Regions from separate parts of the Homo sapiens genome. Here all the other regions are linked to region 2. The links come from fine-mapping of genetic effects on gene expression. A gene starts in region 2. Each other region holds a variant in brackets. All regions are shown on one strand. Distances are between the middles of the regions. Region 1 overlaps RFC1 (replication factor C subunit 1). Region 2 holds the start of KLHL5 (kelch like family member 5). Region 3 overlaps KLHL5 (kelch like family member 5). Region 4 overlaps TMEM156 (transmembrane protein 156). Region 5 has its middle 3.1 kb from the start of TMEM156. Region 6 overlaps TMEM156 (transmembrane protein 156).

Evidence for each region. PIP is the estimated chance that this variant, and not a neighbour inherited with it, causes the effect.
Region 1: its variant is fine-mapped to the expression of KLHL5 in whole blood (INTERVAL, PIP above 0.99).
Region 3: its variant is fine-mapped to the expression of KLHL5 in whole blood (TOPMed, PIP 0.98).
Region 4: its variant is fine-mapped to the expression of KLHL5 in whole blood (TOPMed, PIP above 0.99).
Region 5: its variant is fine-mapped to the expression of KLHL5 in whole blood (INTERVAL, PIP 0.94).
Region 6: its variant is fine-mapped to the expression of KLHL5 in whole blood (TOPMed, PIP 0.98).

What each region holds. Positions count from the first base shown.
Region 1 is chr4:39,315,182-39,320,259 of GRCh38, reverse strand. RFC1 (replication factor C subunit 1) reads left to right here. Exons shown (of 25, transcript NM_002913.5): 10 at 3,238-3,345. Among named protein-coding and RNA genes, the nearest start is that of RFC1, 49 kb to the left of the region's middle. The variant C/A (reference allele first, on the strand shown) is at 2,570.
Region 2 is chr4:39,059,827-39,064,904 of GRCh38, reverse strand. KLHL5 (kelch like family member 5) reads right to left here and starts at 2,673. Exons shown (of 11, transcript NM_015990.5): 1 at 1,870-2,673. The coding sequence starts at 2,252.
Region 3 is chr4:39,115,251-39,120,328 of GRCh38, reverse strand. KLHL5 (kelch like family member 5) reads right to left here. Exons shown (of 11, transcript NM_015990.5): 10 at 4,999-5,078. Among named protein-coding and RNA genes, the nearest start is that of KLHL5, 56 kb to the right of the region's middle. The variant C/T (reference allele first, on the strand shown) is at 2,650.
Region 4 is chr4:39,003,379-39,008,456 of GRCh38, reverse strand. The region is part of intron 1 of TMEM156 (transmembrane protein 156); the gene reads left to right. Among named protein-coding and RNA genes, the nearest start is that of TMEM156, 26 kb to the left of the region's middle. The variant G/A (reference allele first, on the strand shown) is at 2,410.
Region 5 is chr4:39,032,930-39,038,007 of GRCh38, reverse strand. No RefSeq gene overlaps it. Among named protein-coding and RNA genes, the nearest start is that of TMEM156, 3.1 kb to the right of the region's middle. RefSeq lists an enhancer at 552-1,081. The variant G/C (reference allele first, on the strand shown) is at 2,602.
Region 6 is chr4:39,016,529-39,021,606 of GRCh38, reverse strand. All of the region lies in intron 1 of TMEM156 (transmembrane protein 156), which reads left to right. Among named protein-coding and RNA genes, the nearest start is that of TMEM156, 13 kb to the left of the region's middle. The variant G/T (reference allele first, on the strand shown) is at 2,898.

The DNA.
Region 1 (5,078 bases), 260 kb before region 2:
CACCTGCCTCAGCCTCCCAAGTAGCTGGGATTACAGGCATGTGCCACCATGCCTGGCTAATTTTGTATTTTTAGTAGAGACGGGGTTTCTCCATGTTGGTCAGGCTGGTCTTGAACTCCCGACCTCAGGTGATCTGCCCACCTTGGCCTCCCAAAGTGCTGGGATTACAGGTGTGAGCCACCGCGCCCGGCCTTGGTAGGAACTTTCTAGGGAGTACAGTATTCCCCCTTATCCATGGTTTTGCCTTCTGAAGTTTCAGTTACTTGTGGTTAATCATGTTCTGAAAGTATTAAATGGAAAATTCCAGGAATGAACAATTAATAAGGTTTAAATTGGGTACTCTTCTGAGTAACATGATGAAATCTCTCTGGCCAACCTGCTTTATCTCACCCAGGATGTGAATCATCTCTTTGTCCAGCATAACCATGCTGGATACACTACCCACCCGTTAGTCACTTGGTAGCCGGCTTGGTTATTAGATAGAAAAAACAGTACATGTAAGTATATATATAGTTTGGTACTGTCTGTGGTTTCAGGCACCTACTGGGGTGGTCTTGGAACATACCCTCCTCGGATAAAGGGGGACTGCTGTATATATTTTGGTGCTATGTGTTAGTCTGGGTTTGTTTTCAAGTTTTATTTCTAACGATCATAAGTCATTATAATATTTTTAAGATATCTTATTTAGAAGCTGTTGTAGGATATGGAGTATTAATATAGCTAAGTAAGCCCATATTTATTGTTATTGTGTGTCAGATACTGTGCGAATACTTTACATGTGGTAGCTCATATAATTTTCACAACAACCCTGTGAGATATTTATTTTTATTATTCAACTTTTAAAGACGAGGAAACAGGCTGAAAGAGTTTAACTATTCTAAGATCATCCACCTGGTAAGTGGCAGGGCCAGCCTTGAACTCAGGTCCTCTGAAGCAGTATAACATAGTGGCTCCACACACAGGCTCTGGAGCCAGTTTCAGGCTCTGGGACTCTGAGCAGGTTTGGTCACTTCCCCTGTCTGTGCTTTGGTGCTGTTTGTAAAATAGGAATAATAATAATAGTACCTAATGACTTCATATGTAAAAGCACTTAGAGCAGTGCCTGGGACCTAATAAGTGCCATCTTAACTATTATTATTAAAATGATTGTTATTTGGCTTAGTCCTAAATTTACTCTTTTTTATTCTTGTACAACAGTGTTGCGATACTGAAATTATTTTTAAAGGAAAAAATGATGAGATAATGAATATCTTTGAAAAATTTTGCTAGGAAATATATTTGAGAAGCGAACGGTCTCTGAATCTCCAATTTGGAACTACTTTAGATTCATAATGAGAAACCACTATTCATTCATGCCTCTTAGGCACTTAGGATTAAAAGCAGAATATCACCTATTTTAACTGGTCATCACCATTATATTTTAGTGCAGAACAGTGAAATGGTGATGATTTCAGAATGCTTTTGTTTGTGGACAATGCTTATAAATACGCTTAAAGGAGCAATTAACTTTTTGATCTCAGATTTTTTCTGCACTAAATGCTTATCTGGTAAATGAATGGTTTTCTTCAGGCACACTAAAACATGTTCCATTTACAGAGGCAGTCTGTTTTTATGAAGAAAGAGGAAATCTTTAAATGATACTCTTCACTGTACTTTTTAAAGTTAGAATAGAAATAACTCAAAACTTTTACTTAAGCAGTTTTGGTTGGAAACGTCAAATAAAGTCTATTTAATACATTTAGTTGGTCTTGGTCAAATAATTCTGACTTCATAAAGTGGGTGTCCTTCAAAGTTATTGTATACGCTGTTTACCATTCAGAATTCTTTTCATAGAATGAGTGTCGTAAATTAATCGTTTTTCCATGTTGGTATGCACTGGACTCTCTTGTGAAACTTGTTAAAAAAATGGAGTTTCCCAGGGAATGTGGTGTGGGCAGCTGTATTTTAATAAGCTCCTCATATGATATGAACACACACCAACATTTGAGAACCATTGTTAGAAAGTAGGGTTAGATTCTAGGACCAGCCTGTTAATGGCTTATCGACCTCTTAGCCAAACCAGCTGAACTATTTTATTGGTTAAGCCATTCCTTTTTTTTTTTTGAGACGGAGTCTCGCTCTGTCACCCAGGCTGGAGTGCAGTGGCGCGATCTCAGCTCACTGCAAGCTCCGCCTCCTGGGTTCACGCCATTCTCCTGCCTCAGCCTCCCGAGCAGCTGGGACTGCAGGCGCCCGCCACCAAGCCTGGCTAGTTTTTGTATTTTTTTAGTAGAGACGGCGTTTCACTGTGTTAGCCAGGATGGTCTCGATCTCCTGACCTCGTGATCCACCCACCTCGGCCTCCCAAAGTGCTGGGACCACAGGCGTGAGCTACTGCAGCCGGCCGCCATTTCTTTGTATAGAAGTTACTATTTTGTCTACTCTCAAAAGGATTTGGGATTGCTTACAAGTTAAAAATAATGTTAAAATAGGAAGTGGAAAAATAACAAACACCTGATAGTGGTTCTTAAATGAGAGCTATCTAAGATATTTTTCCCCCACATAAACACATTCTAGCCATACCCCATAT[C/A]TCCGAAAGAGAAACTTGGAGGTGGATCTAGGGATGCATAGTTTGAAAAGTTTCCCCAGGATTTTCTGAGATATACCTATGGTAAATTCCCCGAGAGAAGTAGAATGGGAGGAGATGAAATAGCATAGAGAACGTGTCTTCTCTTTGGAGTAAAGCTTGTACCTTCTTTGAGCTGACTGTTTAGATTCTCCTACTGGAATGCTTATGTCCTTAGGGATGCAGGCTGGTGCTTTAGGGGCATGGAAGGTCATAGGATTAACACAGAATATCTTCTCGGGCGATCAGGTTTACTTGGGGAAAAAATGTATTTTCCCGTTAAACATGGATATATGGATATATCATGAAATATAATTTAAAATTCAGGTGAATTCCTAAAGTAAAACACTTTTTGCATTTCTTTGCTTGGAGCTGGCAACTTGGCTTATTCCCATAATCTGCCCTGAGGTGTGTGGCTTTAGAGAGTGGAAAGTTTTGAGAAGCGCTGATGCAGGGATGTTCGTAAGTCAGTTGTCTGTAAGTTAGGAAGTACTTGTGTAGCTAAAACTGTTAATTTCACAGCCAGACACAGAAGTGACACAATAAAAATAATGTTTATTTCTAGATATGTATTTTAAATTTTGCATGAATTCTGTATGACTTTGTTCATTTTCCTTTCCCTGTTCCCAAAGTCTGTAAGTCCTGAAGATTCTGAAAAGAAACGCACTAATTATCAAGCTTATCGAAGCTACTTAAATCGAGAAGGTCCCAAGGCTCTGGGCTCCAAAGAAATACCAAAGGTAAGAGTACTGAGAGGGCATGCCATTCTGTGAGGGCCTCTGCCGTATGGGTCCATGTATGTATTCACGATGATTATAGCAGCAGAGGATTAATAATTAAAAATGAGCAACAGAAAAGCTTCAGTTACTGTCTTCAAGAATTAGGGATGTTTATTCATGTTATGAATCACTGCTTGATACTTAGAAAAATTTCCCTTTAAATAACAAGTAGCCCTAGAAAGGCTGAGCTTTGAGACTATACCAGTGACAAAACTAATGTTTTTGCTTGCATGGCACTTATAGCCTAAAGAAAGAGACATTAAATAAATAATTTAATTATAATTGGGATATGTGCTATGAGGGAAAAATCTAAGATGCCCTTAGGTAGTATAACAGAGGAACCTGGTCCTTGGTGGGGCATGTAGAATGTGACATTTAAATGGAGACTTGAAGAATGAAAGGGATTCAACAGGTGTGAAGGGGTTGTGATGGCGTGGTGGTCTGGGCAGAGGGGCCAGAATGTATGATGTTCCTGCAGGGGGAAGGTTCTTGCATGGTATGTTTGAGGAACTGAAAGAAAAATTATGGTTGGAGCATAGTGACCAAGGGATGAGAATGGCCAAAGAGGTTAATAGGATCACATCTTGCAGGGCCTAATGTTTAAGACTTTTGTCTAAGAGAAGGAATTTTTATTTTGTGTTTTTGAAATGGAGTTTTCGCTCCTGTTGCCCAGGCTGGAGTGCAGTGGCGCAATCTCAGCTCACGGCAACCTCCACCTCTTGGGTTCAAGCGATTCTCCTGCCTCAGCCTCTGGAGTTGCTGGGATTACAGGCGTGCGCCACCATGCCTGGCTAATTTTGTATTTTTAGTAGAGATGGGGTTTCTCCATGTTGGTCAGGCTGGCCTCGAACTCTCGACCTCAGGTGATCTGCCTGCCTTGGCCTTCCAAAGTGCTGGGATTACAGGCGTGAGCCACTGGGCCCGGCCGAGAAGGAATTTTAAAGTGGAGGGATAACATGACCAGATTTGAATTTCTGAAAGATCGCTCTGGCTGCTGATGTACCAAGTGCTGTGGATGGGGCAGAAATAGCTACACAGAGATCATCAGGAGAGATGGTGAGAAGTGATAGGGACTGGTCTGGGGGAGCAGTGAAAATGTCGAAAAGTGGAGAGGTTTCACTAGAAGAGGCAAAATCTATGGGACTTGGTGATAATTGAAGTGGAAAGTGAGAAGAAAGAGTATTGGGGATGATCTTGTTATTGGCATGAGCAGCTTGGTGGATCATGCGATTGGTGGCAGGGCTAGTTTGGGGAGATGATAATGAGTTCGTTGTTGGCCACACTGTGCTTTAGGGTTATGTGAGATGTCCACATGGAGATGCTGAGTAGACAAGCAGATATGTGGGACTGGAGCTTAGAACAGAAGTCAGAACTAGATGGACAAACTTGGGCATTCTTGGCATGAAGGGATTAATAGCATCTGGTAAACTAGTACAGAACAAGAAGAGAAGAGGGCCTTGGCCCCTGCTTCTTTGTGAAGTAGAAGAGGGTGGAAACCAAAAGGAAACTGAGAAGTAGCAGCTACAAATATGGGAGAGAAGTTTGATAAGCGTGGGATCACAGAAGCAAAGGGAAGAGAGAGTATTTCAAAAATGATTGAGTAGTTAAGTCTGTCATGCTGTTAAGATTCCAGGTAAGGGAAGACCGGAAATTGTTCCATTTAGTAACATGAATTAATGATCCTTAGTGGCCTT
Region 2 (5,078 bases):
TAGCATTTTTTAAACAACTTCATTTATTTTAGATTTTTAAAAATGCCATTTTATTTTTATATCTCCTATAAATGAAAAACGTCAATTTAAAATTCTTGAAGAATGCACATAGCAATCTCTCAGTCAAAAAAGGATAATCTTTTTATTTCATAATGAATAGCCCACCAAGATATTTCTGTATGCATACTAAAGAATAGCTTAATTTTATTTCAGTAATCATTAGCCATGCAAACTACCTTTGTTGTAAGGAATTATAGCAACCAATGTGTGTATAATTTTTCCAAGATTACACATGTATAAAAATTTTATATTCACATTATAATTTCTCCAGTAGTAGATAACATGTTAAGAGTTTTATATGTGAATTTACTTATGTTGGTAAATGAATGTTTTATTTTTTCTAATTTTGTTAAAATATTCTTGATATATTGATTTTCAAATGAAACATTTACTCTTTGGTTCTCCACAAAAATGATGAATCTTTTACTATATAAATTGTTCTCTTTATGGCAACAAGTCTCCAAAGAAAATACAAACAATGAACCACATTAGCTCAATTGATCTCCAAATTAAATTAGTGGCTTCTATTCCCTTAAGATAATGCCAAGTCATGAACTAATTAAAAAAAATTTAAATTAAATACACTATTTACCTACATACAGATATTCCCCTCTCTCCATTACACAGAAGATGACAGATGACTAGAGTAAACATTTTTTATCCTTCCAAGTCCACATTCTTAAGGTTAGAAGAGGAAAAGGTGGTAAATATCCTCAAGTAAGAGACACTTAAATATATAAATTCATTTTGTCTCAATCCATATGACACCTACATCATTAATAACCAACTTACAAATTACAAGTGTTATCAAAAGCTGCACAGAAATTTTAAGAGAAAAATATAATAATCAAATTAGACAAATGATAAGCTATTTGTGCCTTTAAATATTTAGAAATATTTTCGAATGAAGATTAATCAGAAAGATGACTTTCATGCTCTAAGTTGTTATATAATCTTATTGTAGTTTAAACTGATGAATAAGAAAATCCATTTCAAAGATAAAGGCAGATTCCAAGATAAAGGTAGATAAAGTCACTATGAAATTACCTATTTTTTTCCTTATTTTCTTTCTTCTAACTGATTTCCCCTTCTTCCTGTCCCCTTTTCACCAGATAATCACATCTAGCCCCTCTACATTCCCTTAAACTCTCCTGGAGGAATGTCCTTCATTTCCCTAAATAGCACACATTTCAGTGAAAGTGAAGGTAACAGGAATTAGTAGCTGTCATCTTAGAGACATGTTACTTAGTATTCTCTATATTAGTCTGGAGAGCTGTAACACAGACAGGACAAAGAGAAATAACCATAAGAAAAATATTATTGACAACTACAATTGTGTCAAAAAATTGGTGACTATAATGTGCATCTCTTTGCAAAACCTTTCCTTTTCATTAAATTAAAAAATGACTCTATCATCTGTTATAAACTAAAATGTCACATAAAATTTCATACTATAGAAATATCTTCTATAGTTTTGATATGAATATAGAAGGTTAATGAATGAAGCAAACCACAGGCAATGATACATGAAATTGCTACTATATATTATTTTCAAAGCTGAGCCAGATCTATATATAGAACACAAGATATTTCAAAATGAATGCTATTTGTTGTCTTTGTAATTTTACAGACTATTAGAACATTAAAAAAACCCTAGCAGAAGTATCACATGTTCATACCAAGATATTATATATATGTATGCAGATGTACATATATAATCAGATTTTAAATAATAAATACTAAATTATTTAAAAACATTATAGAGCCATACCCCCACACCCCTTTTCTAACAGTAAGAAAATAATCAACCTGCATGAACTGGAATCAGATTCATTTTCTTCTTCACTAGTGCCATCATCCACTTCTGGTCTATCCAGCCAATGTGCACCGCCACAATCTTCTGCTGTAAACTCAAATGCAGGGACTTCAGAGGTGGATGCCATTGGCCAAGAAGGTGAATTCTGAAAATCCAGTTGGCTGGACCTTCGGTAACCAATTGAAGCCAAAGGCAATTGTAGGCTACATGGATCTAAAAACTTTCTCCCACCGTTTGCTCCAGTCTGTCCTCGGTTCCAAAATTCTCCCTGCTGGCTGTCAACTGTAGAATTAGGAGATGATGCTTGATGACCAAACCACCTCCATCTGATTTTCAAAATCTGTTTCACATCAAACTCTTTACGAGAACCAGACATCCTCAGAGAAACCAAGTGATCGTCTAGGCAACGGGCAAAAAGCACTGCACACAGATTTGTGCATCCAACCAAGACAAGAGAAGTATATGCCCTGCTGTACACAACAAAAATATGTAAAGGAAAATAAATCACATTCATATATATATCTACAATTACTTTTATGCCAATATATCAGATTTTAAAGAACAAAGGATAATGAATAAAGATGAAACACGGTGGAACATTCCGTTCAATCAGAGCAAACTCTCATCCACCTATCCTGAAGCAGCTAGACCACTTTCCCGGCTCTCCTTTCCCATACTGACCATTAGGTCTCACAAACACTGACAGCATTCATTAAAGTCCTTTCAAATGCAGAACACCACCCCCTTTTTCTTAAACCACAAATGACAGAGACAGAAAACACTATCCCCGTTGCAGTATCTCAGTCTCTGCTGCTTAGTATATTAACTCTTTCATTGCTGAAACAATAAATGTATTCTATAGCATTTCCCTTTGTACTTAAAAATAATCACTTTAAAACTAAAATGTTTCTATTTCTAAACTAAGTCCCTAAGTGAAATACCACAAAACAAGTTTTTAAAAAAGCATTTGTAAAATTAGATGAGTTATGGTGATTTTCCAGGTGTGCTCTTTGGATGGGGAATGAGGAGGAAAGCGGAGTACAAAGGTGGGGCTCCAGACTATTGCCTTCACCTCTATCTTCTCCCTTCAGAAAACAAATGGATCTAATTAATACAGTAAGATCCTGGGTAAGATTTCACTTGGATAAAGAATAATGAGGAGAATAAAAAGTTTGAAAACTACAAAGGATCAAAATGTAACAAATACTCTTTTTCAAATAAACTGAGGCCAGGATTTCTCTATAAGTAGAAATGGGCCACTGCCAGTTAGTGTAACATCCAAATTTCTATGACATTACTTAGGAAAAGGAAAAGTGCGGCTCAAAAAAGCTACCAGGGACTGGGATAGGACTATTGGGTGTACAAGTGCCCTAATGGTGCCCTCTGTTGTTAGCAAAACAAACAATGGTTTGAACATGGTTACAGTTAAGGCAAATTGATAAAGCAAATACAAATAAACTCAAAAATACTGAGTAGTTATTGTGAACAATGCAATCTACTAGGCATTGTCAGGGACACAGAGATATATATATCTTGGTTCCTAACCCCCAAAATAATTAAATCTAGCTATTGAACCAAATACAAAATATTTGATAAGGTAAAATAAGAAACATTAAAATGCTGCAATATTAAAGTGTGATCTATCAATGCAGAATTTGAGTTTTCAGGGTGCTCAGTATTTACTCCTTTATCAACTAATTCCATACAAAAGGCAATGCCTATCTAAGCTGACCAAAAAACAAAAACAAAAACTACTTTGGAGGCTTACAAAAATATTGTGAGGTGTCTATCTTAATACAAATTATTCAGAGAAACAAGAATGAGAAGCATAAAAAGCCAAGTATGATTTCATGCTAAATAATACGGGAAAAACCATACAAACTGTAAGAAAGAAAGGAGATATCAGGATGGCAATGGAGTGGTATGGGCCAGTTTCATTAGGGAGAAGGCTGCTAAGAATAGTAAAACATTGTTTAGGTAGAATGATAGATTTCTACAGAAAAAGATTCTAATAAAAGCATGAAGTGGGCATATCTACAAGGAAGAAGTGGGAAATAATCAGTTTGATCAGCCAGCCATACCAAATTAATTTTAAGGTGTAGTAAGAGATAAAGTTAGATGAATACGATGAGATAAAATGCCTTGAGCAAGCAGCAAAGACATTATTGAATGGACTGTTGAACAGGACAATGTTTTAGGAAATTAACTTGGCAGTACTGTGCAGGACGCATTAGAGAGTGAAATGACACTTTCCCCTCTCCTCTCACCTTTGTCAGACTCCTTCTGATCAACATCCTTCTAACTTCACTCTAGCTATCCAACTTTATTTCTAACCATTTTCCAACATAGACACACCACTTCATTGGTCAAGGCAGTCTACATTATGGTGTTCCCTCTTTTATAACACTGTTTGCCTCCCAGAGAAACTCTGGTTTAAAAAACACACTTCATCCTTCAAGATTTAGCTCAGGCACTATCATCTTTGTAAACACTTCAGTTACTCTAAGTAGCTGGTTCTCAACAAGGGAAGCATCAACCTGCTCCTAAAGGCTTCTGGAAAATAGGTGGTGGTGGTGGTGGTGGTGGTAGATTTTTAGTTGTTGGAATGACCAGAGTGCTATAGGCATTGAGTGTGCAGGGGCCAGAGACAGCAAACATCTGGCAATGAAAAATGATACCTTTATTTTGCCAATCCTCCTCCACTCATTCCCATGGTAATCATTGCTGACGCCAAGCTTGGTACATATAGCCTTTCACACCTCTCTCCATGTTTATAAATCATGGACAAACTTATATACACATATATAAGAGATTTGCTATTGTTATACAAGAGATCATATTGTATTCATCTTTTAGCATTTTGCTCTTCTCACCTAATTTTATATATACATGGAAATATAAATTAATAATCTTTTTAAGAGTTACATGATATTTCATTACTGTAAAAAAACCAATTTATTAAACTATCTCCCTGCTAATGGGCATTCAGGTTGATTTCAGGTTTTTGGGTTTTTGCCATTAAAATAATGTTGAAAGAAACATCCTTGTGAGGCTTTTATATCTACAGAATTTATTGCCAGGAGTGGACTTGCTGGGTTGAAGGTATGTGCATTTTATTTTGTTTTATTTTAAGACAGAATCTAACTCTGTCACCCAGGCAAGAGTACAGTGGTGTGATCTTGGCTCACTACAGGCTCCATCT
Region 3 (5,078 bases), 55 kb before region 2:
AAAGAACAATTCTTAAATCTTTCACCTCTTTTTTGAACAATAGGAACTCTAGACACTGGGTAATTCATAGTGGAAATAAAAGTGTGGACAAAAATAGTTCTGAAGAATTACTCTGAACACAGTAAGAATCTATGCATTTGACCCAGGAGAGTTAAAATGTTAACATGGATTCAGCGGGTGAGTAATGCAAAGTACTAAGAAAGTTTGCTTTGTACTTATATATGTTAGGGTATGTACTAAAGTATTTTTGTCAAATGCCAAAATGACTTCCTAATCAGTTCGACCCCCTAGACCAATGAGTAGATTTTAAGAACAGGTCAGACTTCAGTTATAAGAGAATTCTCAGTAGTTCTCCATCTGAATCAGTTGTTTTGATCACTGTAAGTCTCTTGGAACAATCAACCTATTTTAAAACCATACTTATTGATAGCATTATCGAACTGACCTCAAAAATCATTTATATCAAAATGTCAGTTTATAATTAGTAGCTCTTCTCAAATCATCCAAGACACTTAGTCTCTACATTGTGAATAGCTGACACTGTCATGACAACTAGCTAGAAAGTGTAGCTTAGAGAATTTGTTAAATACAATGCAATCACCTCTTGCTTTGAGGTAAGGCTGGTAGTGAGGTGGGTAGTGGCTTAGGACTTTGTCATCTCATTTTAGTGCCTATACAAATGTCCATCTGTCAGAACACTGAAAGGAAAACTTCAAAATTTTTTTGTTTGTTTGGCTTGTTTTTGAGATGGAGTCTTGCACTGTCACCCAGGCTGGAGTGCAATGGCACATCTCGGCTCACTGCAACCTCCACCTCCTGGGTTCAAGCAATTCTCATGCCGCAGCCTCCTGAGTAGCTGGGACTACTGGCACACACCACCATACCTGGCTAATTTTTTGTATTTTAGTAGAGACAGGGCTTTACCATGTTGCCCAGGCTGTCTCGAACTCCTGAGCTCAGGCAAACCACCTGCTTCGGCCTCCCAAAGTGCCGGGATTACAGGGGTGAGCCACCATGCCTGGCCCAGGAAAACTTTTATTTTTCAGACACTATGATAACGAGTTCACATTTTTAGGTGCTTTAACATAGAGAGGTGGCTTGCAAGCAAAATAGCTATGTGGACACTGATGATCAATTTTGATATGGGGTGATTTAGCATAAAGCATTAATTATAAATAATAACAAGTCTCAAATAACTGGCTGATAGGTCTTAAATCATATATATAACTGGACTTAGGGCTTAAATACATGTCAGAAAAAGAGATTCTTATCTTTCTGAGCTCCTTGGGTGTCATTCACAACTATTTTTGCCATAGTGGGAAGCTGATATTAGGTAATCATCTAATTTCCAATGAAATCTTGTAGCTCTCAATCTTATCCCTTCCTCCCTCCATCAAGTGATCTCACTTAAGAAACAGGATAAAGCCCACACAATCTAAGTCCTTTTCTTCTCTTTCTCTTCACTTAAAAACTCCCTGTACCTTTCTACACTCAAATTCTCATCTTTTCCCAAGCCTTGGAGGGTAAGATCTTTCTTCTAGTCTGAGGGTGACCAGTCTGCTTTTTTTTTTTGAGAGGGAGTTTTGCTCTTGTCACCCAGGTTGGAGTGCAATGGCGTGATCTTGGCTTACTGCAACCTCTGCCTCCCAGGTTCAAGCGATTCTCCTGCCTCAGCCTCCCAAGTAGCTGGGATTATAGGTGCACGCCACCACGCCCAGCTAACTTTTGTATTTTTAGTAGAGATGGGGTTTCACCATGTTGGCCAAGCTGGCCATGAACTCCTGACCTCAGGTGACCCACCCGCCTTGGCCTCCCAAAGTCCTGGGATTACAGGCATAAGCCACTGCGCCCTGCCCCCAGTCTTTGCTCTTAATTCTGTTTCCTGCCCTTTTCTCAGAAAGGTGCCCTTCAGTTTCACTTTTTCTTTCTAGTATCTGGAATCTCTCTCTACCCTCTTCTTGTCATCTCTATTGTGGAGCAAAAAAAAAAAATCCTTGGCTCTAATTCTAACTCCACCATTTATTTGCTATGTGGCCTTGGGTTAGCTGTTTAACTTCTGTGTCAGATTCCTCATCCTGTACAGTGCGAAAATACCAGAACTCAACCTTATAGGGTTGTTGAAGATTAAATTCTTTACAGTGCTTAGAACAGAGCCTGGCCTGTAAGATATGCTCAATAAATACTAACTTTCTATCATCATCATTTAAAAACTGCATGCCTCTCTAGCTCCTACACTCTATTCTTCTGTTTACTTTTTTTTTTTTTTTTTAGATGGAGTCTCGCTCTGTCACCCAGGCTAGAGTGCAGTGGCACGATCTTGGCTCACTGCAATCTCCACCTCCTGAGTTCAAGCGATTCTTTTGCCTCAGCCTTGTGCCTCAGCTGGGACTACAGGAGCATTAATTTTTGTATTTTTAGTAGAGACAGGGTTTCACCATGTCGGCCATGCTGGTCTCGAACTCCTGGCCCCAAAAGATCCGCCGACCTTGGCCTCCCAAAGTGTTGGGATTACAGGTGTGAGCCACCGTACCTGGCCTCTTCTGTTTACTTTTGAAACTGTGTGCTGGCTTCTGCTTCTATCAGATTTTCAGAGGGTCCCACAACTTTAAAAATGACAAATCTTCATTCTTTCTTACACTGTTGAAACTC[C/T]TTACTCCTCCCTTTAGATGCTCTATTCCATTGTCTTCTGAGAACTTCTCTCATCATTCCTTTCCTGTTTTCTTCAGAGACCACACCTCCCAATTCAACCCAGTAAGTGTGTGTATATAAAGAAAGATCAACAAGACCTGGCAATATCTCTTGAATCCATCTACATTGAATGCTTCAAGCCTTGCAACTGAAGCAATCCTCTAAATACTTTTCCTTTTATCCAGCCCTCACTTCCCCTGCCCCTAACCCAACCTATGCGACCCCAACTGCATCATTCTCTTGGTTGAAAGTTTCTGCTGGCTTCTTGTTACCAAACTCTTTAGCTTGGCCTTCACACATCCCCATTCTTTTAAAAAATCATTATTATATGATTATTTTTAAGAGACAGAGTCTTGCTCTGTTGTCCAGGCTGGAGTGCAGTGTCATGATCATGGTTCACTTCAGCCTCAACTCCTGGGCTCAAGCGATCTTCCGCCTCAGCCTCCCAAGTAGATAGGACTACAGGTGCGTGCCACCACACCTTGCTAATTTTTCAAAATTTTGGGGGCTGGGCATGGTGGCTCATGCCTGTAATCCCAGCACTTTGAGAGGCCAAGGTGGGTGGATCACGAGGTCAGGAGTTTGAGACCAGCCTGGCCAACATGACAAAACCCCGTCTCTACTAAAAATAGAAAAATTAGCTGGGTGTGGTGGCGGGCACCTGTAATCCCAGCTACTGGGGAGGCTGAGGCAGGGGAATCTCTTGAATGCGGGAGGTGAAGGTTGCAGTGAGCTGAGATCGTGCCATTGCACTCCAGCCTAGGTGACGAGAGCAAGACTCTGTCTGAAAAACAAAACCAAAACAAAAAAACCCACAAATTTTTGCAGAGATGGCGCCTCACTTTGTCACCCATGCTGGTCTGGAATTCCTGGCCTCAAGCGATCCTCCCACTTTGGTCTCACAGATCTCCATTCTGACCCCAATCTTCCTCTCCAGTAAGCACTCCTTCTCCTCTCAAGCACAGATCCTATAACCAGTCATACTTCAATACGTATTACACAATTCTGCTTTGGTGACATTTCTTTCACATTTTCTCACAATTTCTTCTTTCCAATCTTTTTGAATTGGATCAATTCACTAAGGCTTGGTTTAAATCCCCCTTCATTCTCACTAAAGCTTTCCCCATAACCACTTTCTTTTTTCTCTCTTATCTCCCGTATCACTTGGCGCCTGTACCATGGGACACTAAATACCCACTGCCTTGTGTGGTGCATTCTCCTCTTGCACATGTAGATCTTACCTACCCAAGACCTCAGGTTACATGACCATGGGTCTTCTCAGAAGCTTTCTTTTCTTTTCTTTTTTTTAAGATGGAGTCTCACTCTGTCACCCAGGCTGAAGTGCAGTGGCATGATCTCTGCTCACTGCAACCTCTGCCTCCTGGGTTCAAGCGATTCTCCTGCCTCAGCCCCCCGAGTAGCTGGGATTACAGGCACGTGCCACCATGCCCGGCTAATTTTTTTGTATTTTTAGTAGAGATGGGGTCTCACCATATTGGTCAGGCTGGTCTTGAACTCCTGACCTCGTGATCTGCCCGCCTCAGCCTCCCAAAGTGCTGGGATTATAGGCATAAGCCACCATGCCTGGCCTAGAAGCTTTGTTTTCTTGACCATACTTATCATGGCTCCTTGTATACAAGAAAATCTTGGCTCAGTTAAACATTTATTGTCTTTTATGTACCAAGTACTGAACTGGGTGACACAAGCACAAATTCCTGATTCTGTTCTTGGTGATGATGGAAGCAAAGATCTCAAAAGATCATTTTTAGAAGTGCTAGACCCTCCCAGAAATACACAAGGGTGAAATTCTTTCTGTTAGTAAGACTGCCAGATCAGGTTTCTTACTCAGTGTAATTTAGGGTTGCCATCTTCATTAGGTTATCAGGACTTTAATCTGCTCCCAGATATCAATGGGTTGAGTATTTAAAAATCCGACTGCTCACACATGGGCAAGTTGTTCAAAGTTTTCTGACTACTATCCTTGTTTTTATTTTCCAGTCTCCCCTCCCATTGTTGCAGCCCTCCAGTAGTCCTATCAGCTTTAATCAGGCTAGAACACTTCATCATGCAAGTGGTAGCAGATAATTAATAATTTCTCTGAGTATTAACTTACATCTCAAAGGTAATTCTGGATTTTAATTATGTTATAAAATTAAACATTGCCTCTTTTTCTCATCGCTAATCAAAACGTGATTGTCATATTTATGCCATATATTTCAGTATTGGACAAGATTGAGGGGATCTGTTTTACCATAAGAATTGTTTTAATAAAAAGAGAGTCAGTGTAATAATGAAACATGAATGCCATACCTGGGTCCACTCATTTGTCTGGGGATCATAAGCCTCCACAGTATTAAGGTATGCCTGTCCATCATACCCCCCAACAGCAT
Region 4 (5,078 bases), 56 kb after region 2:
CTGGAGTGCAAGATTAAGTTAGCATTAGAAAAATCTAATAATGTAATTCACTACATTAACAGATCAAAGAAGAAATACTATATAATCATCTTAATAATTGTTGAAAGAGCATTCAATTATATTCAATAGCCCTTATAATTAAAAATTCCCAGCAAACTAGGACTAAAAGAGAATTTGCTTAAATTGCTAAAGGGCATCTAAAATAATTATAAGAAATATTATCAATGATGATACATTGTAAGTGTTCTTAAAATCAGGAGCAAGCAAGAATGCCCACTCTCATAATTTCTATTCAACATGGTACTGAACGTCCTTGACATTGCAGTAAGACAAGTATAAGAAATAAAAAGTATGAAGATTGGAAAGTAAGAAATAAAGTTATAATTATTTGCAGTCAATATGCATATTTGCATAGAAAGCCCAAAAGCTATAAAAATTAAAGTTAATAAAAAAGTTTAATAAAGTGGCAAAAAATAAGATTGATATTTAAAGGTCAATTGTATTTCCATATACTACCAACAGACAGAAAACATATTTCCTAAAAGATGCTATTGACAATAGCAACAAAAAGCAAGGCGCCTAGGAGGAAATCTAACTAATTATTAATCTAATAATATATAAGATCATAATGGAGAAAATTTAGAAAACTTATTGAAAGATATCAAAGAAACCAAAGAACTCTACATAAATAGACAGAAAGGGCTGGGTGCAGTGGCTCATGCCTGTAATCTCAGCACTTTGGGAGGCCGAGGCAGGCAGATCACAAGGTCAGGAGATTAAGACCATCCTGGCCAACATGGTGAAACCCCATCTCTACCAAAAAATACCAAAAAAATGAGCTGGGTGTGGTGGCACGTGCCTGTAGTCCCAGCTACTTGGGAGGCGGAGGCAGGAGAATCGTTTGAACTCGGGAGGCAGAAGTTGCAGTTATGCAGTTAGCCAAGATCACTGCACTCCAGCCTGGTGACAGAGCAAGACTCTGTTTCAAAACATAAAAATAAAAAAATAAAAAATAGATAAATAAATACATAAATAAATAAAAAGAAAGGAAGAAATGAATGATAGGAGGGATTCAGTTTCATATCTTTCTTCTCCAACTGATTTCTAGAATCAAGTCAAAAGTACCACCGGGTACTTCACCACTTAACAAGCTGATTTTAAAATTTATTGAAATGAGCGAAGGATTGCTAAGATACTTCTGAAGAAAAATAACAAGGCGACGGGACTTTTTCCTCTCAGATATAAGAGCTTGTATACAGGAAAAGTAGTTTGCCAGCATGATACCTTTGCAAAGATGGAAAAATGGACTAAAGGAACAAAATTGAGAACCCGGAAACACGCTTATATGTACCTGGAAACTTTATATGACAGAGGTGTCATTACAGATAAGGAAAGATAGACTACTCAATAAATGCTAGTGTAATTGGTTATACATAAAGAAAAAACAAATTTAGTTCCACACATCGTACTGTATACAATTCCATGTTTTTGTTTTTTTGTTTGTTTGTTTGTTTTAGACAGGTTCTTGCTCTGTCACCCAGTCTGGACTGCAGTGGTATGATCATGGCTCACCACGGCCTCAACCTCCTGGGCTCAAGCAACCCTCCTACTTCACCCTCTGTAGTAGCTGGGACCACAGACACGCACTACCACGCCTGGCTAATTATTATTATCATTATTATTATTATTATTTTGTATTTTTTGTAGAGATGGGGTTTTGCCACGTTGGCCAGGCTGGTTTCAAGCTCCTGGACTCAAGTGACCCACCCACCTTGGCCTCCCAAAGGGCTGGGATTACAGGCATGAGCCACTGTGCCCAGGCAGTCCGTATATTAAGAAATGAAATGTGAAAGGCGAAACTTTAAAAACAACTTTTAGAAGAAAATATAGGTAAAGATCTTTTTAACCTTAAGGAAGAAGGACTTCAGACACAAAGCTCAAATTAGAAAGAAAGTGGTTGATAAATTCACTACATTAAGAGCTCCCTTTAACTGAAAGATCAAAAAAAATAAATAGATAAGGTACTGTGAGAAGATATCCTGATAAAAAATGTAGAGAATTCATTGAAATTTTAAGCAGAAAACGTAAATAACTTCTAAACATTAATTAAATAAAAGACAACCTAACAAAAAATCAAAACTTAGAAAAAATCGAGAAAATTAGGAAAATATACATTAAAACCATGATGAGATTCTATTTAACACTCACCAAATTGGCAAAATCTGAAAAGCACTGGTCAGAATGTGTGTCAAAAAGAAAGAACTGCCAGGCAGTGGTTCATGCCTGTAATCCCAGCACTTTTGGAGGTCAAGGTGGGCAGATAACTTGGGGTCAGGAGTTTGAGACCAGCCTGGCCAATATTGTGAAACTTCATCTCTATTAAAAATACAAAAATTAGCCAGGCATGGC[G/A]GCAGATGCCTGTAATCCCAGCTACTCAGGAGGCTGAGGCAGGAGAATCGCTTGAACCCGGGAGGCAGAGGTTGCAGTGAGCCGAGATCGTACCACTGCACTCCAGCCTGGCAACAGAGTGAGAGTCTGACTCAAAAAAGAAAAAGAATTTTTATACACTGCGGGTGGGAATATAAATTGATACAAACCATTTTTGTATAATGATATGGCATTTCTAGTAAAACTGAAGAAACACTAAATACCCAGTAATTAAACCCTTAGTGTACACTAAAGACATGTTCATCAATTTTCAGAGTAGCATTATTTTAACATCAACTTCACAGACATATAATTTACGTACAGCAAAATGCTCCTACTTTAAGTGTATAGTTTGATGAGTTTTGACAAATGTACACACCAGTGTACCTACCACCACAATTAGGATATAACACTTTCTATCACTCCTAAAAGTTTCTTCTTGCTTGTATTAGTCTGTTTTCACACTGCTATAAAGATACTATCCGAGACTGGGTAATTTATAAAGGAAAGAAGTTTAATTGACTCCCAGTTCTGCATGGCTGGGGAGGCCTCAGGAAACTTACAGTCATGGTGGAAGGTGAAGGGGAAGAAGGCAGCTCTTCACAAGGCAGCAGGAGACAGAAGGGAGAGCAAAGAGGGAAGAGGCTCTTATAAAACCATCAGATCTTGTGAGAACTCACTCACTATCCCAAGAATAGCCTGGGGGAAACTAACCCATGATCCAGTCATCTCCCACCAGGTCCCTCCCTCAACATCTGGGGATTATAATTCAAGATGAGATTTAGGTAGGGACACAAAGCCGAATCGTACATTACAAAGCTCCATTACAGAAGAGCCCTTCTCCTACTGCCAATGCACTTTTCCATTTTCTTGAATGTCATATGAGTGGAATCATACAATATATAGTCACTTGATTTTGTCCTCTTTATAATGCTTTTGAGATTCATCCACGCTGTTGCTTGTAGTTTGTTCCTTTTTGTGGCTGAGTGGTATCCCATTACATGAATACAGCAAGAGTTGTTTATATATTCACTAGTTTTTAGACATTTGAATTGTTTCCAGTTCTTGGCTATTATAAGTAAGAAAGCTGCTATAAAAATTCACGTACAGGTCTTCATGTGGACATATGTTTTTATTTCTCTTGTGTAAATTTCTAGGAGTGGAATTTTTGGGTCATATGGTAAGTATATGTTTAACTCATAAGAAAATCTGTTTTCCAGAATGATTATACTATTTTACATTCCTACCAGCAATGTATGAGAGTTTCAGTTCACAGCAACATTATTCATAACAGCAAAAAATGGAACAACACAAATGTTCACTGTCAGAAGAATGAATAAATAAATTATAGTATATTCATTCATAAAAATACCATATATAATTAACTACAGCTCTATGTATCAACATGACTAAAACATGTTAAGCAAAGTAAAAGCAAATCACAGAATACATATGGTATATTCCATATATATGTATATATTTCTAAACTATGCTATAGTGTAGGGGTGAGAAGAGATAGGGGTGCTTCAAATGCATTGGTAATATTCTGTTTCTTAATCTGGGTGATAGGTACATGGGTCTTAGTTATTATTATTTAACTGGCACAATACATTTTATATATGTGTGTATAATATATTTTTATAATAAAAGTTTAAAAAGAAAGGTAGTTGATGTTTCTTTAATCTTACTGTTGCTTTTCTTTAAAAAGAGAAAATATTTGACTTGAGCATTTGTCCTATAGTGCCATGTATTTTCCCAATTCTGTTCAGTATTCTATGTACTTCCTCTGAGAGGTTGCAGTCTTAGTACTGGAGTAATTCTGGAATGCATTTCCATCTCTGAGAGTGAACATTTAGATGTTGACTCTCAGCAGTATTAATGGCAGCAGTTAAATTCATAAATCCTTGCTTATGGAGATGAGAATATAGTCCACCTGATAGCAAAAATGATTGAGTAGAATTTATTTATTTCTTAAAATTATACTGGGGAAGGATGTGTCTTCTATTTATTTCTTTTCCAATTCAATTATTTAAAGCTGAGGTTTAAAAGTCATCACGAAATTACCCCATAGCCGAATATAAAGGATCTGTCATCAATTCTAGAAAGCTCAGTTGGTCACTTATTGAATAAGAAGACTACACTATTGACAGTAAACATTTCTCTATCTCTCTTTTAGGTCATATCATAGCAATATAAATTGAAGAAGTTGAAAGTTTCATAAAATGAAAAGTGCCAGTGAGGAAAATGGAAAGATGGCAAGAAATCAGTTTTTCATGTATTTTAGTGATATTAAAAAAGATACAGATTATGGAGTTCCATCAGATGGTGCATCTCCATATCCTTCCTGGGGCATTATTAGTGAAGGCAATTTTTTTTTATTGTAGTTACAATCTGATTACAACTTTGATTATAAATATATTAAGATCCCAGCACTTTGGGAGGCCGAGGTGGGCGGATCACCTGAGGTCGGGAGTTCAAGACCAGCCTGACAAACATGAAGAAACCCCGTCTCCACTAAAAATACAAAATCAGCCGGGCGTGGTGGTGCATGCCTGTAATCCTAGCTATTCAGGAGGGTGAGGCAGAAAAATCACTTGAACCCAGGAGGAAGAGGTTGCAGTGAGCCGAGATCATGCCACTGCACTCCAGCC
Region 5 (5,078 bases), 27 kb after region 2:
TGTTGCAGCCAGTTCTTTTTATCTGAGACTGGATCTATTAGGCCTGATACTTTCAGACTCTGAGCAATTTATTTTACTTTATCTCGTACATATTCAATGGTTGTTATATTTACCATCATGAAGAATGTTTTGGTTATGCTTTCCTGCCTGTTTATGCATGTAATTAACAATATAATGAATTCTGTGGTTCGGTTGCCAGACTTTGTTTCCAGAGGCTGAAATATACCACAGTGGTTCCAGAATCCATTCCAGGGTGGTTTTCCCTCCTTGTCCCCGCAACTCTGTGAGTATACAGCTGGGCAGACAAGCCTGACTCATAGTTCTTTTGAGGAAAGAGGCTCCAACAGGTTCTTTCCTGTCTAAGCTGCAGTCTCAGTGCAGGGGGTTTTGTTAGTGAAAACAAACTGCCTTTCCAGCCACAGGTGATTGGGGTCAGGACACAATGGGCCAAGCAGCCCTGTGTGGGCTGCGCATGAGAAGACCAGCCACGTCTCAGGAGGCCTGAGTGTGAGGGCCTGGGGCAAACTCTGCCCACTGAGGATTCTAAACCCGGTGGTGGCAGGTCAAACCATATTTCCCCACTTACAGGAGAAATGCACTGAGTGGGCCAGGCGCAGTGGCTCATGCCTGTAATCCCAGCACTTTGGGAGGCCGAGGCAGGTGGATCACCTGAGGTCAGGAGTTTAAGACCAGCCTGGCCCACATGATGAAACCCCGTCTCTACTAAAAATACAAAAATTAGCCAGGCGTGGTGGCGCACGCCTGTAATCCCAGCTACTCCGGAGGCTGAGGCAGGAGAATCACCTGAACCTGGAAGGCGGAGGTTGCAGGGAGCTGAGATCACGCTCACTGCAACAAGAGCGAAACTCCATCTCAAAAAAAACAAAATAATAATGATAAAAAAGAAATGCACTGAGTGAACAAAGATAAGGCAGCTCAGTGACCCGCAGCCTGGGGTCTGAGCAGTGCTGAGCACCTTTTCCGGTTCTCTGAGGGGCTGACTCAACCTGGCTGTTGAAGGGGTGACCTCCTGTGTGCACTCATGTCATGGAGTTCTTTGCCGCAACCTTGCCACAGCCACTGAAGGTACCACTGCTGTCTCCTGTTGGCCTGCTCAGAGGTTCTCTCTAGATTTCTGCTCTATTAAGTTCAAGCTCCAGCCCAGGGGAGAGCCGCCAGCCTCAGAGACACCACAGCCCCTTTCTTAATTATCTGTTTCTAAAATAGCAAACAGGCTGTGTGAGTGGAGAGAGACAGAATTATGTTTATTAAATTATAATTTATATACAGTAAATGATGTACATCTTTTTCAGGGTACAGGTCTAGAATTTTGACTAACACACAGTTGTATAATCACCACCATAATCAAGATATAGAACATTTCCATCACCCTAAAAATTCCCTTATGTCCCTTTGTCATTAACCCCTCCCTCTGTCTCCAGCCTCTGGCAACCACTGATCTATTTTCTGTCTCTGTGGTTTTGCCTTTTCCCAAGTGTTGTATTAATGACAAGGCCTTCATTAACATCCTTATTTAAACCAACATGTGCCCTGCCCAACTTTCTGCTGGCACATCTCACCCTCATACTTTGCCCGATTTTTTTTTCAGGACACCCACAATAACTGAAAATAAATTATTATTTACTTAATTACTCTCTCTCATTGGAATGTACGCTCTCACTAGAATGTGAGCGTGAGAACCTTGCGTGCTTGCTGCTAGATCTCCAGCGTTCAGGACGCTGCCTAGTGTCTTGTTAGTGTTGGGTAAATATTTTTTGAATGGACCACAAAATGAATGAGGATACTGGAATTTCCGGGGACCCTCTCCATACTCAGGTAGACCTTGTTAAAAAGAGATTATTTTTCCCCACAAAAATGTGTTAATCTAAGAATTGCTGTGTTGCCAAAGTAGATGATTATCTGCCAGTAACACAATTAGGGGTAATTAGGGGCCAAGAGCGGTGGCTCACGCCTGTAATCCCAGCATTTTGGGAGGCTGAGTGGATCACTTGCGCCTAGGAGCTTGAGACCAGCCTGGCCAACATGGCGAAACCCCTTCTCTAAAATACAAATACAAATACAAAATAAATACAAAATAAAAAATACAAAAATTAGCTGGGCCTGGTGATGTGTGCCTGTAGTCTCAGCTACTCAGGAAGCCGAGTTGGGAGGATTGCTTGAGCCCAGGAGGTTGAGGCTGCAGTGAGCCTTGCTTGTGCCACTGCACTCCAGCCTGGGCAAAAGAGCGAGACCCTGTCTCAAAAATAAAAAAAAGAAAAGAAAGATAAGTAGTTAGGCTGATCCAGGTTATGGATTGTCTTTTAAGTTTACTTTCTGGCTGATTAGGTTACCTAGAATAGAACTGGCCTGAAGTGACTAACATGGAAATAATGATAGTAACTATTTCATAAGGTGGTTACAACAATTAAATGTTACAAATTAGGTTCAGTGTTTACTGCTCAGATGATGGGTGCACCAAAATTTCACAAATCACCACTAAAGAACTTACTCATATAACCTGTTCCCCAAAAATCTATGGAAATAAAAAAAAATTTTTTAAATGATCTAATATAAGTGAAGCGTTTCATGCAGTGGTTCTCA[G/C]CTGGGAGCTGTTTTGTCACCCCAGGGACATCTGACAATATCTGGAAACATTTTTTTTCTTTTGTTTGTCAAAACTGGGGCGGGGAGGCCAGGTGTGGTGTTCATGCCTATAATCTCAGCGCTTTGGGAGGTTGAGGTGGGATGATTGCTTGAGGCCAGGGGTTTGAGACCAGCCTGGGTAATATAGTGAGGCCCCATCTCTACAAAAATTTAAAATTAGCCAAGCCCGGTGGCACATGCTTATCGTCCCAACTATTCAGGAGGCTGAGGTGGGAGGATTGCTTGGGCCTGGGAGTTCGAGGCTACAGTGAGCCGTGATCATGCCAGTGCACTCCAGCATAAGTGATAGAGACCCTGTCTTTTAATTTTGTTTTTTTTAATTAAAAAAATAAAAACTGGGGTGGAGAGGGCTGCTACTGGAACCAGCTGTTGAACATCCTACAATGTACAGGATATCCCGCACAACACAGAATGACCTGTCCCAAAATATCAATAGTGCCACCAGTGAGAAACCCTGGGTTAGTGCAGCATCAGGCACATAGTAAAAACTGTATTGGTGTTTGCTATGATTATTATTTTATAAGTGGCCCTTCTTGACAAATGTTCCCACACAGTCTGACAGTGGAGGTATAATGGAGTGTTGGGTTGAGAGTTAGGTTTGACACCTAGCTTCACCCTTTATTAACTATGTGACTTTTGAGCCCTTACTTGACTTCGCTATACCCCATATTCTTTGTCTATCCAATTGGAATAACAGCAACTCCCTGAGAGAGTTGCTGGGGAATTGGATAAAATAATTCATACAAAACATTCAACACTGCAGTAGCACATAGTAAATGTTCAGTAAATGCCATCGATTGTTGCTGCTGCTGTTGATCCAATAAAGACCTTTCCACAGAATATAGTGAAGGGATAGAGGACAGTTTCAACTAGGAAAAAAAATTACTCATATAAAGTATATAAAAGCGTATATTTCGTATATTAATAAATATGTAGAAGTTAAATTTAAACTATCCTTTTTAAGGCTGCTATTTATAATTTTCTAAAAAGTATATTGCTTTTGCTTTCCTAGGGTAGAGCACCTCCTTGATATAAAAGATCCTCTCAATTTTAAACATTTGTATCTAACACAGAATGCATAATTATTTAATTAAGACGTTTGGTCTTGATTAGAAATAGAAACACATTAAAGTATTTTTGAGAACCTGGATCTCAGATATGAAATATAAGACTTAGGAAAGTTAAACACTAGCGTAGTAGCAACAACCTCTTGTGTTTGAGATTCGTTAATCTCTTATTCCTTCATTGAAATAGGAAGGAGAAGCTTGCAGTGGGTAAGTAATTGCAGATTTGTAGCCATTTCTAGCAGTTCCTAGAATCCCCTTTATAATCTAATATTTGTGTTTTTAAAAAATAATCTAATATTTGTAAAAGTGCTTTGGAAATTGTAAAACAAAACTATGGAGATGTGGGCCATTAGTATTATCATCAACCCTAACAGGATGTTAGAGAGTCAGATGTTGCCACTTCAAGGGAGATGACCGAGTTTTGGTGCATTTCAGGAAGCCAAAATCAGGCTGCAAGTAAACTTTGTATTTAAGAATAAATGAGACCGGGCTTGGTGGCTCACGCCTGTAACTGCAGCACTTTGGGAGGCTGAGGTGGGCAGATCACGAGGTCAATAGATCGAGACCATCCTGGCTAACATGGTGAAACCCCGTCTCTACTAAAAATACAAAACATTAGCTGGGCGTGGTGGTGCATGCCTGTAGTCTCAGCTACTCAGGAGGCTGAGGCAGGAGGATCACTTGGATCTGGGAGGCAGAGGTTGCAGTGAGCCAAGATTGCACCACTGCACTCCAGCCTGGAGACAGATTGAGACTCCGTTTCAAAAAACAAAAAACAAAAACAAAAGAATAAATGATTAAATTGATAAACTATACATTATTTCGTGTAATATTAGAAATACAATGAAGAACTGTGTTTCTCTGCATAAAACTTTTAGGTACGTGTTTTATACTCTGTTACAAAATAGTTGGGTGGAAAAACTCCCACCATATACAAAATGAAAAGGCAAATGACAACCTGGGAAAAATGTTTGCAAAACATATGCAAAGATTTCATATTCCCAATAGAGAAAAAAGTCTTATAGATCAACAGGAAGGATATAAATGCTGCAATAAAAGACATGAACATGCAATTAACAAAAGAAATTCAAATTGCCAGCAAATATTAAAAATCTTTAGAATTACTGTCAACCAAACAAATGCAAATTAAACAATACTTTTTTTTCCTTTTAAATTGGCAATGGTTAAAATGTTTCTATCTTCTAGATGTACTATTTTCTGAACACCAGAATTCAGCACAGCACCTGGCACCAAACAGGATCGACAATCATTTAATAAGTAAATGAATGAGTCATGTGCATGCAACCTAGACATGACTGACATTCACCCTTTTATTTCTTTCTCTCTTGA
Region 6 (5,078 bases), 43 kb after region 2:
TGAAAAGAAACTTACGGAATGAGAGAAAATAGTTGCAAACCATATATATAAGGGTTTAATATCCAAAATATATAAGGAATTCAGACAATGCAACAGCAAGAAAATAACCTGATTTAAAAATGGGCAAAGGATAGTGAAGAGTTATTTCTTTTTTACTTTTTTCTTTTTTCATTTTTTTCTTTTCTTTTCTTTTTATTTATTTATTTTTTTTTGAGACAAGGTCTCACTATGTTGCCCAGGCTGGAATGTAGTATGGCTCACTGCATTCTTGACCTCCAGGGCTCAAGCGGTCCACCCACCTCAGCCCCCTGAATAGCTAAGACTGCAAGTGTGGGTCACCACACTGGCTAATTTTTAAATTTTTTTTGTAGAGACGGGGTCTCACTATGTTGCCCAGGCTGGTCCCAAACTCCTGGGCTCAAGCGATCCTCCTGTCTTGGCTTCCCAAAGTGCTAGGATTATTGGCATCAACCACTGCATCAGGCTGACATTTCTTGAAAGAAGACATACAAATGGCCAATACATATATGAAAAAATTCTCAACATCGCTAATCATCAGGGAAATACAAATTGAAATTTTATGAAAATACAGTGAAATATTATCTCACACCCAAGATGGCTATTATCAAAAAGACAAAATATAGCAAGTGCTGGTGAAGATGTGGAGAAAAGGGAACCCTTGTATACTGTTGTGGGAATGTAAAATAGTACAGCCATTATGACAGACAGCATAAAGGCTCCTCAAAAAATTCAAAATTAGGCTGGGTGCGGTGGCTCACACCTGAAATCCCAGCACTTTGGGAGGCTGAGGTGGGCAGATCATGAGGTCAAGAGATCGAGACCATCCTGGCCAACATGGTGAAGCCCCATCTCTACTAAAAATACAAAAATTAGCTGGACATGGTGGCATGTGCCTGTTGTCACAGCTACTCGGGAGGCTGAAGCAGGAGAATTGCTCGAACGGGAGGTGGAGGTTGCAGTGAGCCGAGATCATGCCACTTCACTCCAGCCTGGTGACAGAGTGAGACTCCATCTCAAAAAAAATAAAAAAAATTCAAAATAAGAACTACTAATAAGGCACAATGACATGCACCTGTAGTCCCAGTTACTTGGGAGGCTGAGTTGGGAGGATCGCTGGAAGCCAGGAGTTTGAGAGCAGCCTGGGCAACATAGTAGGATCCTGTCTCTTTAAAAAAAAGTAGAACTACCATATCGCCCAGCAATCCCACTCCTGGTTATATTTGAAGGAAAGGAAATCAGTGTGTCAAAGGATCTCTGAACTCCCATATCCACTGCAGCATTACTCACAATAGTCCGGATGTGGAATCACTCTGAACTCCCATATCCATTGCAGCATTACTCACAATAGTCCAGATATGGAATCAATGTAAGTGTCCATCAGTGAATGAATGGATAAAGAAAACGTGGTACATATACACAAGATAATACTATTCCACCTTAACAAAGAAGAAAATTCTGTCTTTTGCAACAGTATGAATGAATCTGGGGGATACTATGCTAAGTGAAATAAACCAGGCACAGAAAGAAAAATGCCACATGATCTCACTATATATGGAGTCGTAAAGAGTTGAACTCACAGTGGCAGAGAATAGAATAGAATGATGTTTACCGTGGACGACAGGGTGGGGTGAGGGGAATGGAGAGTTGTTGGTCAAAGGATACAAAATTTCATTTAGACAGATGAATAAGTTCTGGAGATCTATTGTATGGCATATTGACTATAGCTAATAATAATGGATTATATACTTGAAAATTGCTAAGAGAGTAAATGTTCTCGCCACACACAAACGAAAATGGTATGTGAGTGATGGATATGTTATTAGGTTTGATTTAATCACCTAACAATATATATATCTCAAAACATCACATTGTATACCATAAATATATATATAATTTTTGTTAGTTAAGTATACCTTAATAAAACTTGGGGAAAGGCACCTGAAAATATATGAAGTTTAAAGCAAAATGTAAGGTACTGTGATTGGGAAAATAGCAAAAATAGCAACAATTCGTACACACAAAGTTAATAGGGAGGACAAACAGAGTCGTTTATTCCCCCAGCCTAAAAATAATATAAAACAAATATGTGGGGAGATCCAATGCTCTGCCACATTTTGTGATTCTAAAAAACAATATGAGCAAGGAACAAAGACTATTAAAAGTTACCAGGCAGATTTGAAAAAGAACCAACTGGAAGTTCTAATTGTGAAAAATATAATAAATTAGAAATGCAAGGAATGAAATGAACAGATTAGATGCAACTAAATAATGAATTAGTGAACTGGAATAGAGATCTAAAGAAATTACCTAGAACATAGCACAGAAGTTAAGAGACATGGAAAGCAAAGGGAGCTATTTCTAATCAAAGCTGCAAAGGATAGAAGAAATAGAATAGGGTAAAGGCAATATTTGAAGAGACAATGGCTAAGAAATTTACAGAATCATTGAAAGACGTAAATCCTCAAATTCAGGAAACCCACAAATCCCAAGCAAAATAAGTGATGAGAAATTCTGCAGAGCATGAAAACTGAAGAGGTTTTTTTTTTTTTTTTGTTTTGTTTTTTTAAGATGGAGTCTCGCTCTGTCGCCCAGGCTGGAGTGCAGTGGCGTGATCTTGGCTCACTGCAACATTTGCCTCCCAAATTCAAGTGATTCTTCTGCCTCAGCCTCCTGAGTAGCTGGGATTATAGGAGCCCACCACCACACCCAGCTAATTTTTGTATTTTTAGTAGAGACGGGGTTTCACCATGTTGGCCAGGCTGGTCTCGAACTCTTGACCTAAGGTGATCTGCCCACCTTGGCCTCCCAAAGTGCTGGGATTACAGGTGTGAGCCATCGTGCCCGGCCAAGAGATCTTTAAATAACCAGGGATAAAT[G/T]CAGATTGTCTTTAAAAAGTTTAAAGGAACAATAGTCTGATAGCTCATCTCTTGAAAACAACAATGAAAATCAGAAGGCAGTGAAAAATGCCTGCAAAGTGCTGAGGCAAAATTTTTGTTGACCTAGAATTGGTGAGATGTATATTTTCAGGTAAACAACACAGAGAGTTTACAATCATCAGACCCTCAGTGAAAGAACTTCTAAATAATTAGCTTTAGGAGAAGGAATGTAATCCCAGAAGGAAGGGCAGAGATGCAAGAAGAAATGGCAGGGAAAAAAACCTCAACAACAATTATAAACATGTGAGTAAATCTAAACAAATCCTGAAAATATTAGATGCATAAAATTTAAAAACTCAACTAATTTGTATGTCAGTGAAAAAACAAGATAGAACCAAAATGCTGTATAAAAGTAACCTTTAAGTCAGGAAGGAGATGATCCGAGTTAAAGTATCCTAAGACCCTTGTATTGTTTGAGAGAGGTTAACTGTTGATTGACTTTAGGCTTTAAGAATGCATGTTAAAAATTACTATGGTAACTACTAAAATAATAGAAATATAGTATCTAACCTCACATAACTAAAGGGAAAAATAATGGAATGAGAAAAAAAAATCACTGAATCAATTTAACAGCCAGAAAGGCAAGAAACAATAGAAAGCATGGTACAAATAGGAAGCATTAATAATATGATATAATTAAATCTAAATATACCAATGATCCCAGTAAATGTAAATGGGCAAATCTATCCAGGTAAAAAGACAAAAAATTATCAGACTAGATTAAAAAAGCAATTTCCGGAAATATGCCATTTAAAACAGACCTATCTAAAGCATTAAGATAAAAGTGAAAAGATGAGAAAAATATACGGAACAAATAGTAACTGAAGAAAGCACATGCCATGGTATTAATGTAAGATTTTAAGATTAACATCATTACTAGCAATAAAGAAGGTCAGGATATATGGATAGAAGTTTCAATTCACAAGAATATGCATCAATTCTAAATTTATATGCCCCAACAAAGATAGCTTTAAAAAGACAATTATAAATCCATTATTTAGTGGGAGATTTTAAACATACTTCCCAGTCATAAAATACAACCATGTGAAGAATAGGAATATAGACAATTCAAACAATTCAAATAGCTAGTTTTATCTAATGGATGTATTTAGAATATTGAACTCAACATCTGGAACACATATTCTTTTCAGGGAATAAAAATACATACTTGGGCTGGGTGCGGTGGCTCACACCTGTAATCCCAGCACTTTGGGAGGCTGAGACAGGTGGATCACGGGGTCAGGAAATCAAGACCATCCTGGCCAACACGATGAAACCCCGTCTCTACTAAAAAAAATACAAAAAAAATTAGCCAGGCGTGGTGGCGGGCACCTGTAGTCCCAGCTACTCGGGAGGCTGAGGCAGGAGAATGGTGTGAACCTGGGAGGCGGAGCTTGAAGTGAGCTGATATGGTGCCACTGAACTCCAGCCTGGGAGACAGAGCGAGACTCTGTCTCAAAAAAAAAAAAAAAAAAAAAGAAGAAATACATACTTGATATGGTTTGGCAGTGTCCCCACCCAAATCTCACCTTCAATTGTAATAATTCCCACTTGTCAAGGGTGGGACCAGGTGGAGGTAATTGAATCATAGGGTGGTTTCCCCCATACTGTGTCTTGTGATAGTGAATAAATATCATGAGATCTGATGGTTTTATAAATGGGAGTTCCCCTGCACAAGTTCGCTTGCCTGCCACCATGTAAGACATCTCTTTGCTCTTCCTTCATCTTCTGCCATGATTGTGAGGCCTCCCCAGCCATGTGGAACTTAAGTCCATTACACCTTTTTCCTTTATAATTTACCCAGTCTCGGGTATGTCTTTATTAGCAGCGTGAGAATAGACTAATACAATACCAGACTATAAAAACAAGCCTCAATACATTTCAAACAATCTTTAATATACTTCTCTGACTAAATGAAATTAAATTAGATTCTAGTAACAAAAAGAAAGCTAAAAATAGGTAATATATTTGGAAATTTAGAAAATTCACTTCTAAATAACCTATAGTTGAGAAGAAACTATAATGGAGAATAGAAAATACTGTAACTGAATGATTAAAAAATACTATCTGTTTAAACTTATGCAATATTACCAAAACATATAACTTTAAATGCTTATACCT